3 separate regions of the Homo sapiens genome follow, and all the other regions are linked to region 2. The links come from fine-mapping of genetic effects on gene expression. A gene starts in region 2. Each other region holds a variant in brackets. All regions are shown on one strand. Distances are between the middles of the regions.

Region 1 (7,117 bases), 120 kb before region 2:
CAGTGAGCCAAGATGTGCCATTGCACTCCAGACTGGGTAACAAGAGCAAGACACTGTTTCAAAAAAAAAAAAAAATTGTAGTTATTACCATTACAACTGTGCCATAGAAAACCAAGGAGAGAGGACAGGCATGGGGCTCATGCCTGTAATCCCAGCACTTTGGGAGGCCGAGGCGGGCAGATCATTTGAGGTCAGGAGTTCGAGACCAGCCTGATCAACATGGAGAAACCCCGTCACTACTAAAAACACAAAAATCAGTAGGGCTTGGTGGCATATGCCTGTAATCTCAGTTACTCCGGAGACTGAGGCAGGAGAATTATTGCTTGATCCCAAAAGGCAGAGGTTGCAGTGAGCTGAGACTGCATCACTGCACTCCAGCCTGGGTGACAGAGTGAGACTCCATCTCAAAAAAAAAGAAGAAAACCAAGAAACCAAGGAGAGAGTTTCAAGGAGAAAATAGACAACAGTATCAAGTGCCTTAGAGAAGTCCAGTAAGAAAGACTGAAGTGAGACAATGTGTCACTGGACCTCTGACAAGAGCAATTTTAAGAGTGTCATGCAGGTAGAAACCAGACTGCGATGGGTTGAGTAGTCAGTCATGAGTCCCTAGAGTTTGAGAATCCAGTCAGCTCTTTCTAGAACTTTGCATATAAAAGGAAGAAGGGATATGGGTCTAGAATTAGACTGGGAACAAGGCAGGGTTGAGGTTTGGAGGGTTTTATCTGTTTGCTAGGATGCAGAGAGGACTTAAACACATTTATATACTGAGGAAAATAAACTAAAAAGGGAATGAATGGTTGAATGTGGAGGGGAAATTTCAGCTAATGACAATGCAAGATCCTTGAGAAGTCAGGATAACATAGAATTAATAGCACAGATAATCAACTTAGCCCTGAATAGGGGGAGAGAAACTCCTTTCTCTGGGCTAGAACAGAGGATAAATCCGTGGGTGAGTAGTAGCTTTACAATGTTAGTTTTTCTGTTTTATTTTTCCATTATTCTGTAAACATAATGTAATACATATTGTAACAAAACAGTTGAAAAACACAGAAAAGTAGGAAGGAAAACAGAAAAGTAGGAAGGAACAAATATACACTGATTGCATTCTGGCATATTTCATTGCAGACGTTTTTCCTCCGAGAATTCATAACATGCTGTAGATTCATTTTTTATACCTTTGATTTTTGTTGGTTTCTTTTCTGTATAATTGAAAACAAAACCACCTCTTAGAAGGAAGAGATATTGAGAATTTTAATTGTGGCCAAGGGTTGGAAAAACCGTGATGGGAAAGTGAAGTCGGCACTACTAAGAATATGTAATAGAGGGTAATATGGGTCCAGACAATATTGGACACCAGAAGCTTGCAGCTGCATTCACTTGCACGGTTGCATGCTCCGGCATGTTCAACAACCCACAAAGAGAAGCAGAGGAAGACTGAGATTAACTTAAAGTCAGTTTTGCCTGGTAGCTAGTGTTCATCCTGTAATCCTCACCAGAGTCCTGTGAAATCGGCAACAGCTTTTTTTTTTTTTTTTTAGACAGAGTTTCACTCTTGTCGCCCAGGCTAGAGTGCAGTGGTGTGAGCTCGGCTCACAGAAACCTCCGCCTCCCAGGTTCAAGTGATTCCCCTACCTCAGCCTCTCAAGCAGCTAGGATTGCAGGCGCTGGCAACCACGACCGGCTAATTTTTGTATTTTTAGTAGAGATGGCGTTTCACCATATTGCCCAGGCTGTTCTCGAACTCCTGACCTCAGGTGATCCACCCACCTCGTCCTTCCAAAGTGCTGGGATTACAGGAGTGAGCCACCGCGCCCGACCGGCAATGGCCCTTTTACAGATGAGGAGACTGAAGGCTCAGGGAAGTGGCCTGCTCTATAGTGCACAGCACAAAAAGGGAAGTTTGGATAGAAACTGACATTTTCTGTTCCCAGCCCCAAGCTGGGCCCTAATTATCACAGCGACCTCTTACACCCAATAGGTCCCTGGAATCTCACCCAGAGCTCTAGGGTGAGATGAGCTGGAGAATAAAGTACCCTCCTCACCAAGAAAACGTATACATGCTATCAATGTGATTAATTTACCTTTAGAATGAAAACGTTTTATTCATAAAATTTCAATTTCAACTAAGCAATTATGGAGCCGCGGATACTGTACTACAGCCTCAGGATAACAAATCTCCGTGCTGGTAGCTGAGTCATAATTAAACAGCAGCATAATTTATTTGATTATGCATCCTAATTAGCATTAGGCTCTCAAAAATAGAACACGTGTCATCAGTAAATATGAGGGCACACCAAACAGAGTGAAGACCCATGAAAATGTTCTTCGGCGCCCCCATCATCTGTATCTCGCTGCACTATCAAAACAGAAAGGTCTGACCACTCATTTACGCGAATATGGACATTGCTTGGATCTCCGATCAGAGAAAGATCCGAAGTTTGCTTTGGGGAATTATACGCGTCTTGGGACGAGCAGCAGGGATGGGGTCGGACAGTTCAGAGCCTTCATACTGTCCCCCCCACTCAAAGCCCCTGGCTCCAGGTACAGCAGCTCTAGTAGTTCCGGGTGAGCTTATGGAGCGGCTGCGAGTCAGTTTCTCCACCCACCACCACGCGCCATCCAGGCCTCCCCGCCTGCCCACTCCCTATTGGGGGTGGAAAAGATAAATAGAAAAGATGGGTTCTCCCGGCAGAAGTTACGGTCCTGCCGCTAGCCCTCTCTGAGCTCAAATTCACGTCCCTGGCTGGTGCCCTCTTTCCCTTCCCTCTGTCCCCAGGTCCCAAAGAGTCAGCTCGCCGCTCCGTTGCGCCTCTCACCACTGCGCACCTCACCTCTCTGCGCCTCTGCCCCGACCCTGCCGCGTTCCCAGCCTCGGAGGGACCCCCGAGTTCCTGCTCCAGCGCCCTCTAATGGCCAAGACCTGGGGAGCGCAGGAGAAAAGCAGGTGGGGAAAAGGCCATCAATGGATGGATACCCAAGGACACTTCCATATGTTCGGTGGGGAGGGCAAGGGGGGCAGAGCGTGGGAAGATGCACCAAGCCCAGGCACC[C/A]GAGGCCCGAGGTGCCAGCCGTAGAGGAGAGAACCCAACGCAATTCCATATGTTCAAGAGGCAGATCCAGGTAAGAGTCTGGGCTATGTAGCCAGATCCCCTAAGTTCAAATCTCAGCTCAGCCACTTACAAGCTGCATGTCTTCAGGCAAATTACTGAACATTTCCAGGCCTCGGATTTTCTCCTCTCTGAAATGTGGATTATAATAGTATATTCTTCATAGGATTGTTAGGATTAAATGAATTAAGACCTGTGAAAGGCTTCGAACAGTGTCTGACCAACAGCATACACTCAATAAATGCTGGCCATCATCATCATCATTTTAACAAGCATGAATTTCATTATCTGCCTAATATTATGAGTTTAAATTTGCACATATATATTGGAATTATAATTAGGCAAATTCCTATATGCTATTTAATCTATAGAATTGAATTTAAGCAATCTATTAGTGGCCCAACATAAACCTCTATGTGTTCTTTAAATATACAAACCTTTGATATTTACTTACTATGTGTTCTTAACACATAAAACTCTTAGATATTTAGCAGCATGTCTTTTATCTGAATCTAAAGAACTCACTGCAACATTAAGTGCTGACAATGCAGAAGATTCTGCTTTGCTCATAAAAGGTCTGGGAATATCCTGCTGCTTTCCAGCTGGAAATCTTTTATCTAGTCATTTATCCAAGCAAATAGACATTAATTGTCCTACTTTCTTTCTTTCTCTGTCAAGCACTATTATGCCACAACATTCGATTTTGACGTTTTTATTCTGGACCCCAATTTTGTGGCTGCATGGAGCCAAAGGGTCTTTATGAAAAATTAATATTTATTTAATTACCAAATATAAAAGCTAATGACTGAATTTTTCCTCTTTCGCTCCAATTTTTGCCAATTTGTATTGTAAATAGACACAGAAAATATACGGGAGCTTAAAGCATGATTTGGAGCACAGGAAAACCTGAACCAAAGGAGAGAACAAAATTAGGCAACCCATTCATTATCAAGAATGTATTATAGGTTCAGGGAGCTTCAATTGTGCTATTGTTGCTATTGTTAAGACAACAACAATGTGCTTTTATGGTACCCAGCGCTAGCCCCTCTCATCACACCTGTCACTCCTATTGTGTTTATTCTCTATCTTTCTGTTATCTTTCTTTAAGGTTCTTGTCTATATTTTCAGTATCCTCCTATTTATTTAGCACTGACCAACGCCTAGTGTGTGTTTGGATGAAAGAACAAACATTCATTTTGAACTTATTATATAAAATCTTATATAACTTTGAATTTATTATATAAAATCTTTAAGTGATTTGCTCATTAATTTCCATTTTCAATTATTCCTGGAACTAGGTTGTATCCCATTTTACAAATAGATAATCTAAGATCTAATTTGAGGTTAAAATAAATTGCTAAAATCAGTTTAAAACTGATAAGCACTAAATATCTAGATGGTGCCTGAAAAATCTCACTTTTACCAAGATTCTGAATTGAACATTATTAGCAAAAGCTTAAACTGCCAAGCCACCAAAGGAAATGCAGAGTACGATATCAGTCTCTGAAACCTCTTATCTGTTGTGAAATTACAGTGGTACAGAATATCCAACCATGGTGACTTAAATTAATAAAGACAGGCTCTTAGAATCTTAGACATTGTCATTTCTTTGCTCTAGTTTCACTGCCCTTTCTGTGTTTTCCATGTCCAAAGTTTTCTTAAGTTCTGTTGAAAATAAATGGCTTGCAAACATGAGACTATCAATAATTAAGGAATATCATTGTAAGCCATCATGACATGTGGATTCTGCTGTTGCCTGGCTGGGCACATGGGACGGACAAGAAAGCAGAATGAGTACCTAGAAAAGAAGAAAGTACCATTTATTCACTCATTCATTCTCTCTCTCTCTCCCTCCCTCCTCCCTTTTTTGTGTGTGTGCAAGTGCACACCCACACACCCACAAACAACTGCATACACACACAGATGTTGATTACATGCCAGGTACTGTGATAACTGATCTAAATACAGTATCTCATTTAATTCTCAAATGTTACAGATTTTTATGCTCTGAACCCAAAGTGTGTCTTACAATCAATAGTATGCAAGCCTTATGTCATAATCTAATTAGAAGCATTTTTCTTTCATAATAACTCAAAATCATGGTGCATCTTGCCAGCAAAAGTGTGACAGATTGGAAGGAATACAGCATTCTCTCCACATCACAGAGGAAGAAACACCTAAAGAGTTCTAGAGCAAGGAAACTGACTCAAGGTTATTTCACTTTTCTAAAGCCTAAGCTTCTAACCCGATGATTCAAAAGACATCTTTTCCTCTTGCTCAGAATAAATAATTTTACCCTTTTGAGCTTCCATTTTCTCTTGCAAACATTTTCTTGTAGGAAATAAGTATCAACTACTGTCAGAAGCAAACTACTAAAAAGATTATTTAAAAAACCCAAACCTTGAAGCTAGCAAATTTTAACTGATCTGAGAAGAGACAGCGCGATAAGTATACATTCTCACAAACTATAAATGACTCCACAAAGTTTAAAAGCACAGTATATCTCTTTCTCTTTCATATATCTCAATCTTACTGTTGTAAAAAATTTCAGCAATCCCTTCATAAACAATGAACAAGATGTATCATTAGAATTAATTTAAGGTACCTTTTTCTTTGAACTCAGTGGCTGTTTAAGGCAGAGAACAAACTTTTTCTCTAAAGCCATAATATTTCACAGCATAGCTTCAAGCCAAAACTTAAAGGAGGGGTAGCAAATCCCTATTTGGACTTAGGATTAGGAAAGGCAGCCTGCATGCGTTGAGCATTTGTTGCAGTCAAAGCTGCCAGTACCTGAAGAAGCCTTTAGGCAGAGTAGAAGAACTTACAGTAAGTTCTTTTAGGAGTTCTCTTGAGGCAGATAAGCTGGGGGGATAGCTCGCCTGGCTCAAAGCTGCTGCACCCCAGCTGTCTCAAGTTTTGCCCCTCTATAACTTCAGTTAGAGGAGACAGAAGTAGACTTCATCAGCCTCAGTTTCCTCTGTCAGGTTCCCCGTGACAATCATAGTGTGGCTCCCATGGGACCACTTACAGCTAACCAAAAGAGAATGTCCTTGAATTTCTAGCGTAGCCTTGCTGAAATTTTTAGTAAAGGCTTTCAAAGGAATTACACACTTCTAAAAACCTTAGCCTCAATGACTTCAACAGGGAGATATTTATATAAAGCCCATATTTAACTCCTCTTAGGCCAGACGGATCTCATTCACTCATAATAACACTTTCTTCAACTCTTTACCAACACAGGGAGACACTGTGCAGTAGGAGAGAAATATGAGAACCCCAATCTCAGGATTCAAGGTCTGGGGATCACTGAAGGAAAGGTAATAAAAAGGAACATTCAACAGTGAAAACAACCATGCTTTTCATTTCAGGTTTCTGTAAAGCTCTGGCTGAAATAATGCATAAAAGAGAATGCTGAGCTGTTTTATGAAAGGGATTCAAAAATCAAATCAAATTAATATTTCATCTTTGATGGCTTACAAACCTAAAAGAATTTTCTGCATCCACGCGATAAACCCACAGAGGGCAAAAACCACTTGAAACGATGAAATGCAAAAATCACAGTATTTACTTCCGTTTTCCCTAGTGCTGGGAAACTGAAGGTGAAAACCGCTAAGCAAACTACTGGAAAGGTGGGTAGGGAGCCTTTGCAGAGGAAATTTCACAGGAGAATAAGAGCACCTTATTAACTTTTTCAGCTATCAAAATAAGCCTCAAACGACGTTGGTATCAATTTTCTGTACTGGGTTTCCATTCATACAAGTAAAGCCCACAGATGTGGCCCATGCCAAGTACAAAACCCTCTTTGGAGGTCCTCTGGGCAAGATCCATTTTCTGTCAGCAACTTTCAACTTCTCCTCTGTCCATTGTTGTCCAAATCCAGCAGTCCTCGGAGCTTTTCCATCGAGACAGTTCATCGTCATGACGCCCACTAATAGCAGAACTGCAAAACCCTGACAAAGCTACCCTTCCCCTAGGAGAAGTAAGCAGATTTTTCAAACTCTGTATATGGA
Region 2 (7,117 bases):
AAGAAAAGAAACACAGGTATGAAGGCAATAAAGCATGATGTATGTAGTCTGGCCACGCCACCATCCCTGCTGCTCTGGACAGAAATCAGAAGCAGCAGCAGATAGAAGCAGAAAATCATCAAAACTTTACACATGAGGTACTGCTATTCCTTCCTCAACAAGTGTATTAGAATATAAACTTGACAAATTGGAGCTTTTCCATAGGTAGGTAGCAACAGAGAGAAGCATCACCCCACAGTTTAAAGTTTATGTTACTTGGGAAAAGACAAACATGAAGTATGAGTCTGAAAATTAGTTTCAAGAACTCTCAACTAATTGATTCTCTCCCAAACTGAAAACACACTACAGCAAGGCTAAAACGTAAAATAAAGTGAACTTTAATCTATAATATACATGAAAATGTGAAAGAACATGTTTCCTTTTGATTTTTGTAAGGAAAGTAAGTTTCAGTGTGAGTGAAACATATCTGAGAGAACAGGAAAGTCTTACCTAGGTACAAGGAGGAGTTTTCTTTCTTGACATTGTCATCTAAGTAGGTTGGTCCCAGGGTATAAATAGGTGTGGAGCCCATTCCAATGAGAATCTGCGCGCAAATGAATAAAGCCACGTAGACCCAGTGATTATTTCCTCCCGAGTCCTTCGGACAGGCCGGAGGCTCCAAAGTGGCGGTGGAGTTGCCACCCTGACACAGGCCGTCGTTGGGGGCCGAGGCGTTCAACTCTTGGATCTGGTAGGGGGGCGAGATGAAGTGAGGTAAGGCGAAGAGGGCTGCCCCGAAGGCGATGAGGAGTCCACCCACGGCCAGCCACAGGGGCCGCCGACCCCGGCCGCCGAAGTAGCTGACGAACACCACCACCACCAGGTTCCCGATGTCAAAGCAGCTGACCAGCAGCCCCGACTCGGAACTCTTCAGACTGTAGCGCCTTTCAATGGTGGTAATTACGCTGCTCAGGTACCCAGAGACCATTAACGCCTGGATGAAGGTCAGAAAGCACATGCACACCAGGAAGCAACGGGAATCCGTGAGGACCACGTAGAGGCACCTTCTCTCCTGGAGCATGGCCAAGGCGGAGGACACCGAGAAGGTTTTGCTGAGGTCCACCCTGTGGTTACAGTCCCCGAGCCCCGCCGAAGTGGACGGGGCAGAGGGACTGGGGGCCAACGGGTTCGGGCCTTGCTTCAACTCCTGGTGGCCCGAAGAATCCACACAGCCAAAGGCCGGGTTGGCGTCTCCACTAGTGGGACTGAGGCTTGGCCGGCAGGAGGCGCTGCTGAGGACCGGTAAACTCTTAGACCTGAGGGTCTCCGGCTCGCACCTCTCTTGGACAGCTTCTGCAGTGGCCGGCGCCTCCAGCTGCTCTCCCGCCCCGGGCTGCAGTCCAGTGCCTTCGTCCATGGCGCTTAGAATTCAGATTTGATAGCTGATGGCACCCAAGCACTCCGGCACGTTTCATCCACCGGCACGAGGGGCCGAAGCCGGGCCCAGTCAGTCTTGCCCACCTGGGACTGGGGCTGGGGGCGCAGGGCCGCGCAGCAGGGCATCCTCACCAGCTGCGAGGCGCCCAGTGCATCCTGATCACAGACACGGCTTCAAGGCTCCGCAGCCGCGTGCCACAGGGGGCAGGGGTCCGCGCGGTACTGCGATGAGCCCTACTCGGCGTCCCTCTCCGGGCGGTAGCTTGAGGCAGGCGCCTCGCGCGTCCCGGGCTCATCCCCTCCGCCGCCGCCGCCGCCGCCGCCGCTGGGCCCGCGGCCAGGAGCGAGTGCACCCTGCGCCGGGGGTGGGGGGGCACTTAGCGCTGCTGTCCGTACAGCATCCCACCTCGCTGCGCCAGGGGTACCGGGTGTTCGCCGCCTGGGCTCGCGGCACCCTCGGGAGTGAAGCTGCCGACCTGCAAAGCAGAAAGAGGGCGGTCAGCGAAGAGCGGCTGCGGCTTGGGGCTAGCGTCCCAGCGCCCCGGGGACCAGGGTTAGGTGACCCCGAACCGTCCCTAGAGGGACGGAGGAGCTAGTCAGGAGCGGAGCCCCGGAGGACTAGGCAGCAGCCGGCTGCAGTCTCCAGTCCCGGAACAATAAGCAGCAGGCGGTCGGCGGAGACTCTCCCTCATTGTCTGCCGCGGACCTGCCCCCGTCCCGCCCCTTCTGCCTTAAACATTGCGTTTGCTTTTATATGTTAATAATTATCAACCTGGCAGCTCTGACTCAGAGGCAGTGTCTTTTAATCGAGTGAACTAACTGCAGCCTTTCCGTACTCCTACTCCATTACTCAAAATAGAAAATGCCCAAAAGAACAAAGGAAACTTTTTCACAGACACACAATGTATTCCCTGTCCCAATTTTTCTAAAAGGAAAAAAGAAGGTGGGGGTAAACTACGTGTGTAGAAATGTGTGTGCACACTGGTGTGCGTTGGCACGTGTGCGCGACTAGATTTGAATCTGTCTGCTCCACCAGAGACACACATTCAAAGCCGAAGGCAGCAGCAAAAAGGTCAACATGCTTGCCTCTTTATTCCCAACACCAAAAATAACCCCCTGACCGAAAGAACTCTTCAATTACAAATACCAGGGGCATTCGAGGCTGTGGCCCGCACTAAGTCCCAGAGCGCGGTATCAAACGAAACCGAAAATCCGTCTGCTTTGCCGAGAGCTAGGGAAGCCACAACCAAACAAAGAGATCCCGGCACGCTGTCAGAGAGCGCGCGAGGAGCCCACGGAGCCGGCTGGGCGCACGCGGGCCGGCGGGGAGGTGTGCTATTGACTGAGCGCACCCCGCTAGCGTGGGCCTGGGGAGCGTGTGCGCGTGCGCGGCCACACACACACACACACACACACACACACACACACACACACACCGGCGTACTGGAACCTCTCTCGCGATCCCGCACCCAGCTTGAATTCAGCAAGAATCGAAAACAGGTGTGCCCCCGTGGTAAGACCCCGCCCCTAATCTTGGGGACCCCCACTCCACTCCTCCAGCCTGGGGCAAGGACGGGGGGCGGAATATGCACCAGGTGGGAGACAGCCGAGCTTCACTACACTGGGTTTCATTTTGCAGCGCGCCTTTGTGATGCTGCTGAGAAAAGAAAGGAGGAAGGGCAAGGGAGAAAGGCAGAGAGGCTGGGCGGCCAAGGGTGGCCGCTCCGGCATCTCCCTCGGCTGTGCTGGGCCAAACCCGCTCCCAGATTCCCGGCCTGCCAGCCACTCACAATCCCGGGCTTCCCCGCCGCTGCCTTACCCAGGCGCCTTCCCGGGGAACCCCACCAGCCGCTGCGTGAGGAGCCGGGGAATCCCAGCAAACTCTCGCCGCTCGCGGGGGGCGTCCGAACCCCCTGCTTAGGCGAGCGCCCTCACAGCATCGCAGACTCGGATGGACACGCGGATCCCGGCAGGGAGCTCTTGGAGCAGGCGTGGAATCCCAGGGACACCCCCTGCGCGCACATCACATACACGCACATCCTACACACACACACACACACACACACACACACACACACACACACACAGAGCCCGTGGGAAGACAAGACCGCCGGCGACAGCCCGCCGCGCTGCCCGGGCGCTCAAGCCGCCGCTACTCACTAGCGAGTCTGTCAGTCTGTCTGCCTGGCTGAGTAGAGCGGCGGGAGGGGGGCACTGAGCTACGGGAATAGTTGGGAGCCGCGTGAGGAGGCAGCCTCCGTCCAGCCGAAGAGAAATCAGTGAATGAGACTGTGACTCAGGCTGAACTCTTCCCCCCACCCCTCGCCTGTCACCCAAGCCTCTCCTCCGCTCCAAACAGACACACGCGCACAGAGACGCGCCCGGAGAGGAGCAGCCGAGGGCGCAGGCGCGAGGGCAGCCACCCAGCCCAGCCCTCCCACAGCCAGCCACCCCGCTGCCCTTCACCTGCGTGGCTGCGGGGGCCCAAGAGCGCTGAAGCCCCGAGGGAGCCGGTCTCTAGAAAAGTCAGCGGCTGAAGCTGACAGCCCACTCTGAATAAATAAATCATTTCTGATCGTTTATTCCGTGCCTTGGGCACACACCATGTCTCATTCACCATAGTAGATTCTGGGACCAAAGATAAACAAGACAAGATACTTGGTCGGAGGAAACCTCTGGCTTGTGGGGGAAATACTCATGTAAATGGCTTAAAACAACGTGGTACATCTATGCAGCCTGCTACTGGAGTAGCCAATATCCATTAGCCTTCATTTCCACGCAGCAGGAAGAACAGAGGCACGGGGGCATGGTGCTGCCAGTCAATAGGTAGATAAGCTTCCTAGAAGATTGCAGGGATGGGGCAGAGGACCAGACTGCAAGAGTGGCTGAGTAGAAAGGGGCACTACGGGTTTCCTAAGTTGTGTACTGTCAATAATGTGGGGGCAATGACGTTCTGACTTCCTCACCAGAGAGCTGGCTCTGGCAGTGACAGGTAGACAGATGTGAGGCCACACTGCGGGCACAGAAGTGAGTTGGGAGGCAGTCTGAAAGCAAAATGTGATGAGGCATTGGCAGGGGGCATGGAGAGGAGGGAACTGGGCAGCTGATGCAATCTGCAAGAGAAGAAAACCAGCCGAGGTAGGATGACTCCCAAGTTTCTAGCACCAAGTTGGGTGACTACGTGCCTGACAGCCAATAAAAGCACAGGTGGAGAAACATGCTTTAGGAGAAAGATTGTTCTCATCTACATGTGTTGAGTTTGAAATGTTTGGGGGACATCCCAGTGTACGTGTCCCATAAGCCACTGGACACACAGGAGGTTTGGACTAGGAATATTGATCAGTAGTCATCAGCCCAAAGGTGGCATGAGAAAGGATGGAATGAATAGGGAAGATCATCCAAATTGTGAAGAATCTAGGAGGACAGCGTACAGCCAAAGGAAGGAGACTGGAAGCAAGGGTCAGAGAGGTGTGGGACGCATCAGAAAAGCCAAAAGAGCAGACGACTGTAAGAAGGGAAGGGTCAGATGTGTACAGGCTGCAGGGAAGACAAACAGGATGATAACTGAAAAAAAAAAAAAAAAAGAGTATCTGAGGGCACTTGTGACCATTGACAGAGCAGGATAGTGCTCTAATGGAGGAAAGGAGGTTGCTCACAAGTACCAGTGACCATGCTGGCCATTGCTGCCAGGTCGAAGCCCCTCCACTGGCCCTTGGCCTTGCCCAATGAAAGCATTGTCTCCATTTTACAGATGTGATAAGTGTAGAGAGGTTAAGTAACTTTATATAGGCACACAGCTGCTCTGTAGACAATATGAACCAATGTGCTCCAAAAGACTATGTTCTTACTTAACCTCTTAACCCTGACTCTCTACCCTCTCTCCTGCCATTGAATAACATCCTGACTCGTCAATGCACCTTGATTCTTTTGATTATCTCCCTTTAGTCCAACAACCGTCGTATCTACAGCGATCCTTAGAGAACAATTAAGGCCAGTTGACAGTAAAGAACAATCAGTGTGTATTTGAAGTCCATGCTGAGAGAGCATCAATCTTCTGGCAGCTGCAAGACTGACCTATCAACCGAGGCATTTCTTCATTCCCTGCCATTGTCTCCTCCTCTTGAGATCGCCATCAGGCACAGTCACTTTTCTACAAACAGGCAATAGGACTCCCGCTGCCACCCTGCCCAGATTTTAGTCCTCTACTGCTGATAAAGTGAGCAAAGATACGTGGCACTTCCTGAACCCAAATACTCTTCTGAGCTGATTCTAAATCCACACAGAATCAACCTACCTCCTATTACCTCCTTCCAAGCTCTGTGTCCCATTCTCTCATTTCAGTCTCAGCTCCAGACATCAGTGAATTCAATGTGATACATCAGGGGACATCACAGGACTTCCCTACTTGAAAATCAAGCAATCGTGTCCCTGAAACACTCTGTCTTTATTCATGCTCAGTTACCGTAAAGTAGATGCAACTCTAAGAACCTATGGATTTTTTTATTGCCACTAATAGATCATGATTTACAGCAAAATTTTAAAAGGTCCAATTTTACTCACATAAGAAGAAGAAAACATTCAGCAAGAAGCATTTCTTTTGCTTTATCTTTCCCAGTTAAATATGACTTTAAAAAAGACAAAATTTTAAAAGGTCCAATTTTACTCACAAAAGAAGAAGAAAACATTCAGCAAGAAGCATTTCTTTTGCTTTATCTTTCCCAGTTAAATATGACTTTAAAAAAGACAAAATTTTAAAAGGTCCAATTTTACTCACATAGGAAACAAGAAGAAAACATTCAGCAAGAAGCATTTCTTTTGCTTTATCTTTCCCAGTTAAATATGACTTTGAAAAAGAAGAGCACACCTCATTAGCCGTAATTGTCTGATTAATACAAAGAAATGGACTCATATCACGGGGTTCTACTACCCCTATGGTAGTGTTTACTATCCTTATTTCACTCAATAATTACAGTTACTTTAACCAGAATGCCTGCCTTGTTTGGCATTTTGGGAGAGGAAGCATATGACTGTAAACCCTCTTCAAACTTTCAGACTTACGTTTGCTTCTTCTAAGTCCATCGACTTTATACATAAATGACTTCTTTTTAAAAATAAATAAATAAATAAATAAATAAATGATTTCTTTCCTGATCTTCATATAACAAGTATGTAGCCTTTGCAATTTCCAGGGCAGTCTACAGGTTTAAAATCTGGCCGTCCTGGAGAATGGGCAGAAGAAAGCTGAAGGGAGCCTTTTCCCACAGCCCTTCCCTTCCTTCTTAAAGAAGGTTCACTTCAGAGGTCTCCCAGATACAACAAGAACTGAGTTTTTGGTTCAGAATATTTTGTGGGTGCAAAACATAATACATAGTTGCCAGTAACATAATTGAATTAGGTGTTGGTTGTTTAAGAGGAGACACATTGTATCTTTAAGGTAGCCCCTTAATAGAACTTGGCATGTATATCCTTCCTTAGAAGTGAATTTCAGGTTGGGTAAAACCTGAGAAGGAACAGATCTGGCCCTGGGGTACAATGAATGCAGGCAATCACTCCAGCCCTGGTGGCTTGAGGGCCCTGCAAGTGCTAAAGGAGTATAGTGACCAACTGTGTCCAAAGAGACTTAGCACTGCAAGTCCCACACCCCCAAGAAACCACAGTTCCATGAACACCTGGAGGCTTGGCTCCCTATAAAGAAACTGCC
Region 3 (7,117 bases), 41 kb after region 2:
TATACAGCATAGACAGAAATAAAAACCACCATTTAACAAACTGGCAAGTAGGCCCAACCATTTTTAAAACAAAGCTGTTCAATGGTACTAATGAATGAACCTTCATTAAGATAGAAATAGCCCACATCATCTGCTCTTCCTTTTAATTAAAAGCACTGTAAGCAGGTTAGAAGAAAAGTCTTCCCTAATTTTTCAGGATAATGATTATCGTTACTGGATTACCATAGTAATCTCCCAATTAACACCTTAGACCTTGAAAAGCAAAATTGTGAAAAGATTTTGCAAATGCTTAGGTCCATATGTAAAGCAGTTCCTGGACATGTAGAAGTACAGATAAATGGTGCCAGATGCAAAGCCAGACACAGGCTGTTTTTCGGTTCATTATCTTTACTACCTACTGAGACAATTCATGAAGATTTTGAGTGAAGGTTAAAATTTAAAGTCTTTGCAAACACTTTAGACAAGCTCTTCAGAGTTTTCTAAAGTTTGACAAATTCTGTTAATTAAGCTATCAGAGAAATAACTGTCTGGAGTCCAACAAAATAATGTACTCAAGCATTTGTGAACCATAGCATACTGTAGAGAGATATCCCCACTGTTAATAGTCCCATAGCTTTCAAAGTTCTTCCGAAATAGTGGGACTGAAGAAGAAATAGAGGCACGGGGAGAAGAGGTGTATCCTATACGGTCATCTTTAAAAAACTACCTCCCCAAAATATATGTATACATACGTACATACATACATACATACACATGTGTATATATACAAATATTCTCCTATTTAATATGAAGAAAAAAACGGGGCAATGAGAAATGCACTCAAATTAAAATATGGTTATAATCCTTCTGTAACTGTCGTTCTAAAAATAAGACTTAAAAACAAGATCAATGTATTTTCTTTTTTTTTTTTTTTTTTTTTTGAGACGGAGTCTCGCTCTGTCGCCCAGGCTGGAGTGTGCAATGGCGCGATCTCGGCTCACTGCAAGCTCCGCCTCCGAGCTCACGCCATTTTCCTGCCTCAGCCTCCCAAGTAGCTGGGACTACAGGCGCCTTCCACCTCGCCCGGCTAATTTTTTTGTATTTTTAGTAGAGACGGGGTTTCACCATGTTAGCCAGGATGGTCTCGATCTCCTGACTTCGTGATTCGCCCCCCTCGGCCTCCCAAAGTGCTAGGATTACAGGCGTGAGACACCGCGCCCGGCCGCTCGATGTATTTTCTACAGATAATTTAGATGCCCAAGGTGTTTATGGTACATCAAAAAGAGGTTTTTTGTTTGTTTGTTTGTTTGTTTGTTTTTGAGACGGAGTCTCATATTGTCGCCCAGGCTGGAGTGCAGTGGCGCGATCTCGGCTCACTGCAAGCTCCGCCTGCAAGTTCCGCCTCCCGGGTTCATGCCATTCTCCTGCCTCAGCCTCCTGAGTATCTGGGACTACAGTTGCCCGCCACCATGCCCGGCTAATTTTTTGTATTTTTAGTAGAGACGGGGTTTCACCGTGTTAGCCAGGATGGTCTCGATCTCCTGACCTCGTGATCCGCCCGCCTCAGCCTCCCAAAGTGCTGGGATTACAGGCGTGAGCCACCGTGCCTGGCCCAAAAAAAGCTTTTAAGCTTTAAAAAAAAGAAATCATAAAATTTTGCTGTTTATTTATTCAGAATTCTGAATCTGGTCACCTTGCACTTGCCAAAGAAAAATATTGAAAGCAAGGTTGTAGGGGGTCGGGGTACATGCAGATAGAAACGCTAACCTCCTCCGCTACCAGGAGAAAAATTAGATTAGACGCAATTTAAACACTTAGTAAATTATCTCCACACTAACAACTATAAATGTGATGTTCTTTATAAAAGGCCAAGACTCAGAAAGGGGAGGAGGAAGAGAGGAGACGGGGAGAAAGAGAGATCACTGTGTACATGTCGGAAGCAGCAGCCTATTAAAATGAGGGAACAGGGGAGGACGGACTGAGTCTTCCAGCCGCTGGCACTTGGGGGTGGTGACTGAGGACAGACATAAAAGCCTTGGAATTAACTAGTCCTAAAACTCCAAATGGCAGTCTGGCATCCAGTTGTTTTTGGCCACAGAACTGACTCAGCCTTCCAAGTGCTGGGGAGGATTTGATTCCCTCCTGCAATTTCCAGTGACCTTGAGAAGTGTGGAAGCGAATCAGGACTCCAGACACCTGAGCACGCTGATTTTAAGTAATTGCCACGTGTCAACAAATTAATCAGTTAGAATGTGACCCATCCAAGCGAGTTATCCCCTAATCTTAAGTAATAAAAGCAGAATCCAAAAGATGTGACCAGTGATTAGAATTGATTAGACCTAAACATAAATCTAGGCATATCTAGGAGGGCATTCGCAAAGTAAAAATAGTTATGTTGAGGCCATGGAATAATATGACTTTTTCTTTAATTTTTGTTATGTTATTTTTGCCATTTCAAAAGCGACAAGGAAAAGTTAAGAGATAAATGATTATAAGAAAATATTTACAACTTACATCACAAAGAACTAACATACAAAAGCTCTTAGAATTTCAGGGTTAAAAAAGACAAAGATACCTATAGAAAAAGGTTTTAAAAACATAACCAGCCTGTAGTCCCAGCTACTCAGGAGTCTGAGGCGGGAGGATCGCTTGAAGCCAGGAGTTCAAGACCAGGTAATACAGTGAGACGTCATCTCTAAAAAACAAAATATAATGAAATCTCAGAAAAAGACAGGTCATTTGCTTGTTAACATGTGGAAAAGATGCTTAACCTCAATTCATAAGAGAAATGCAAATTCAAAATGCAGTGAGATATAATTTCTCACATGTCAGATTGGCAAAAATCCAAAGGTTGACAATTCATTTGGCTGATAAGCCTGGGGAAAAACCAGCTCTCTCATACATTGCTGACAGGAATAAATTAAAGAAGCATTTACCGTTAGACCCAGCAATCTCACTTCTAGGAATCTATCCTGAATCTACATAAATACTAAACAAAATATTCACTGGGATAGTAATTGCAGAGCTGTTTGTGACAGCAAAAGACTGGAAACAACCCAAATGTTTCACCAATTAAAAAATGACTGAATAAACTACCCCCACAATGAAATATAGGCAGTCATGGAAAAAATAAGTAAGATTTCTATGTATTGATAAGGGGTAGTTTCCAGTACATATTAAGTGAAAAAAAAATGCACTACAGTTGCATCAGTCTGTTCTCACACTGCTAATAAAGATATACCCAAGACTGGGTAATTTATAAAGGAAAAAGGGTTAAAAGTTTAGCATGGCTGGGGAGGCCTCAGGAAACTTACAATCATGGCAGAAGGAGAAGCAAATGCGTCCTTGTTCATATGATGGCAGGAAGGAAAAGAATGAGTGCCCAGCAAAGCGGGAAGCCCCTTATAAAAACCATCAGATTTCATGAGAACCAACTCACCAGCATGAAAACAGGATGGGGGAACCTCCCTCCATGATTCAATTACCTCCCACCAGATCCCACATGGGGATTATGGGAACTATAATTCAAGATGAGATTTGCATGGAGACACAGCCAAATCATATCAACAGTATACATAAAATGCTATATTTTATATAAGAAAGGAGGTAGACTGGGCACAGTGGCTCATACCTATAAACTTAGCTCTTTGGGAGGCTGAGTCAGGAGGATCACTCAAGCCCAGGAGTTCAAGACCAGCCTGAGTGACACAGGAACTCTATGAAATTTTTTTAAATATAGGAAGAAAGAAAAAAAGAAAAAGAGAGGGAGGAAGGAAGGAAGGAAGGAAGGAAAGAAGGAAGGAAGGAAGAAAATAGGTAAAATAAGACTATATATACACAATATATGTATTATATATACACACTATATATGTGTGTTTTTAGTTTTGCTTATTTTTCCAGAAACTCTAGAAAGAT[A/C]AATCAGAAATGAATACTAATAGAGCTAGTTGTATGGGGGTTAGAAAGTGGGGAATAAGGAGAAGGATAGAGATGGTAGTAAGACTTTTCTGAATATGCCTTTTTATATAATTTTGAGTTTTTACCTACTTAAATGTTTTAAATGTTCATGAAATAGGTAAAATTACATCAAAAAGGGAAAGAAACCCTAAAATTGGGAAAAAGAAAACTTAATTCTATATCCAGTGAGCAACATACTGACACAAAGCAAAAATTTATTTCAAGTGAGTTTTAGACACCTTTTGGACAGTTCCTTCTTTAGTGGGATGTAGTCTAAAAATAAAGAACTACCTAAAAAATTCTCAAAATTCGCCTCATATTTTTATTGCTGTAATGATGTGATAATATTGACATTGTAATTTTGAAGCCCTTTTATGTGTCTACTAGGATCAAGCAAATAAATATGTTAATCTTATTTTTTCAATTTCCAACTTAAAAAGATATAAATATAAAATCAATAAGTTAAGAAAACCACATTGATTTCTTTTTTGAGATAGGGTTTTACTCTGTCACTCAGGCTGGAGTACAATGACACAACCACAGCTCACTGCAGCCTCAACCTCCCAGGCTCAAGTGATCCTCTCCCACCTCAGCCTCCCAAGTAGCTGGGACCACAGGTGCGCCCCACCATGCCCAGCTAAGTTTTTATGTTTTTTATAGAGCTGGAGTCTCACTATGTTGCCCAGGCTGGTCTTGAACTCCTGGCCTCAAGCAAGCCCACCTTGGCATCCCAAAGTGCTGAGATTACAGGTGTGAGCCACCACACTTGGCCAAAATGTTTTATATAGCTTTGTTAAAATATGATTCACACACCATAAAATTAATCTTTTAAAGCACAAAATTCATTCCACAACCCATTTGGTTTTGTCAAAAGACAAAAAAAATGTACAAAATTCAGAGCCGGGTGTGGTAGATTGCACCTGTAAGCCAGCTACTTCAGGAGGTTGAGGCAAGAGGATCGCTTGAGGCCAGGAGTTCAAGACAAGCCTGGGCAACACAGAGAGATCCCATCTCTAAAAAAATAAATAATAAAGTACAAAACTTACTGATTTTTGTTATATTCACAGAATCACGCAACAATCACCACTATCTAATTTCAGAACACTTTTTATCACCCCAAAAGAAAATCTCATACCAATCAGCAGTCTCTCCCATTCTTTCTCCCACTTACCTACTTTCTGTCTCTATAGATTTGCCTATTCTAGACATTTTATATAAATAACATCAAACAATATTTAGACTTTTGTAACTGGCTACTTTGACTTTGCAAAGTAAATCTGTCCTAGTTTCCTGTTGCTGCTGTAACAAACCACCACACATTGGGTGGCTTAAAACAATGGAAATTTATTTTCTCTCGGTTTTCAAAACCAAAAGTCTGAGCTGAGCATGGTGGTTCATATCTGTAATCCCAGCACTTTGGGAGGATGAGGCAGGAAGATTCCTTGAGTCCGGATGTTTCAGGCCAGCCTCAGCAACACAGTGAACCTCTATTTCTACCAAAAAAAAAATTTAGCTAGGTGTGGTGGTGTACGCCTAAGGTCCCAGCTACTCAGGAGGGCTGAGGCAAGAGGACTGCTTGAACTCTGGAGGTTGAGGTTTCAGTAAGCCATGTTTGCACCATTGCACTCCAGCCTGCGTGACACAGGGAGGCCCTGAATAAAAAAAAAAAAATAAAGTCTAAAATCAGGTGTCAGCAGGGCTGCACTCCCTCCAAAAGCTCAAATAGATGGACAATCTGTTCCTTTTTGCTTTTCAGCTACTGGTGGCTCCAGGCATTCCTTGGTTTGTGGCCAAATCACTCCAATCTCTGCCACCGTGGTCACATTGCCTTCTCCTCTTCTCTGTCCTCTGTGTGACTCTTATAAGGACACTTGTCATTGAATTTCTGGCCTATTTGGATAATCCAGGATAATCTCAACTCAAGATAGTCAATTTAAGTACATCAGCAAAGACCTCTTTTCCAAATAAGGTAACATACACGGGTATGGTGGATTAGGATATAAATATATCTTTTGAGGGGGGCTCATTCAATCCACTACAGTCTATCCTCAGACTTTCAAAAGTTCACATCTAACCTACTTGCAAAATACATTCATCCATCCCAAAATCCTCAAAAAATCTCAATGATTGCAACATCAACACTAAGTCCAAAATCTCATCAGCTCAAAAGTTTCAAATCTTGGTATCTAAGTCAGGTATGAGTGAGACTCTGCATATGAACCATCCTGTGGAAAAATCCTTCTCCATCTGTGGGCCTGTGAAATGAGAATACTACATATACATATTTTTTGAGATGGAGCTTCAATCTGTTACCCAGGCTGGAGTGCAATGGTGTGATCCCGGCTCACTGCAACCTCCATATCCCGTGTTCAAGTGATTCTCCTGCCTCAGCCTCCCGAGTATATATATATATATATAAATCTTCCTTAATTGATGGAAATCTGGGTTGTTTCTACTTTTTGGCTATTATAAATAATGCTGCTATGAACATTCATGTATAAGGTTTCTTTGTGGATATATATTTTCATTTCTTCGAGAATATAACTAAAAGTGGAATTGCTGGGTCATATGGCAACTATGTTTAACATTTGGAGGAACTGCCAAACTGTTTTCCAAAGTTGGTATATCATTTTGCATTACCACCAACAATGTATAAGCATTCAAATTTTTCTACATCCTTGTAAGTACTTGTTAATGTCTGTCTTTTACTTTAGCCATCCCAGTAGGGATTAAGTAGTATCTCAATGTGGTTTTGATTTGCATTTCCCTAATTATTAATACTGTTGATCATCTACCCATTCATGCGCTTATTGGCCATTTGTATGTCTTCCATGGAGAAATGTCTATTCAGTGTCTCAGCCCAAAATCTCCTTAAGCTGATAAGCAACTTCAGCAAAGTCTCAGGATACAAAATCAATGTGCAAAAATCACAAGCATTCTTATACACCAACAACACACAAACAGAGAGCCAAATCATGAGTGAACTCCCATTCACAATTGCTTCAAAGAGAATAAAATACCTAGGAATCCAACTTACAAGGGATGTGAAGGACCTCTTCAAGGAGAACTACAAACCACTGTCCAAAGAAATAAAAGAGGATACAAACAAATGGAAGAACATTCCATGCTCATGGGTAGGAAGAACCCATATCCTGAAAATGGCCATACTGCCCAAGGTAATTTA

Which allele goes with the higher level. Alleles are on the strand shown, and positions count from the first base shown. SD is a standard deviation of normalised expression in the study named. Not every link is listed here.
For the expression in prefrontal cortex of the gene that starts at base 3,701 in region 2, allele C in region 3 goes with a lower level than allele A (small effect, 0.36 SD a copy in GTEx).

What was found. PIP is the estimated chance that this variant, and not a neighbour inherited with it, causes the effect. A credible set is the group of variants that fine-mapping cannot tell apart.
Region 1: its variant is the best candidate, but not a certain one, in a credible set for the expression of SLCO5A1 in testis (GTEx, PIP 0.82).
Region 3: its variant is the best candidate, but not a certain one, in a credible set for the expression of SLCO5A1 in prefrontal cortex (GTEx, PIP 0.67).

What each region holds. Positions count from the first base shown.
Region 1 is chr8:69,708,501-69,715,617 of GRCh38, forward strand. The region is part of intron 5 of SLCO5A1 (solute carrier organic anion transporter family member 5A1); the gene reads right to left. It overlaps LOC105375889 (a long non-coding RNA gene), which reads left to right and starts at 3,036. Exons shown (of 3, transcript XR_929026.3): 1 at 3,036-3,120; 2 at 6,348-6,424. RefSeq lists an enhancer at 2,650-3,150. The variant C/A (reference allele first, on the strand shown) is at 3,051.
Region 2 is chr8:69,831,278-69,838,394 of GRCh38, forward strand. It overlaps SLCO5A1 (solute carrier organic anion transporter family member 5A1), which reads right to left and starts at 3,701. Exons shown (of 10, transcript NM_030958.3): 1 at 3,577-3,701; 2 at 490-1,892. The coding sequence starts at 1,396. SLCO5A1-AS1 (SLCO5A1 antisense RNA 1) reads left to right here and starts at 2,835. Exons shown (of 4, transcript NR_186568.1): 1 at 2,835-2,916. RefSeq lists silencers at 1,677-1,766, 3,857-3,966 and enhancers at 1,957-2,026, 3,457-3,536.
Region 3 is chr8:69,871,995-69,879,111 of GRCh38, forward strand. No RefSeq gene overlaps it. Among named protein-coding and RNA genes, the nearest start is that of SLCO5A1, 41 kb to the left of the region's middle. The variant A/C (reference allele first, on the strand shown) is at 3,895.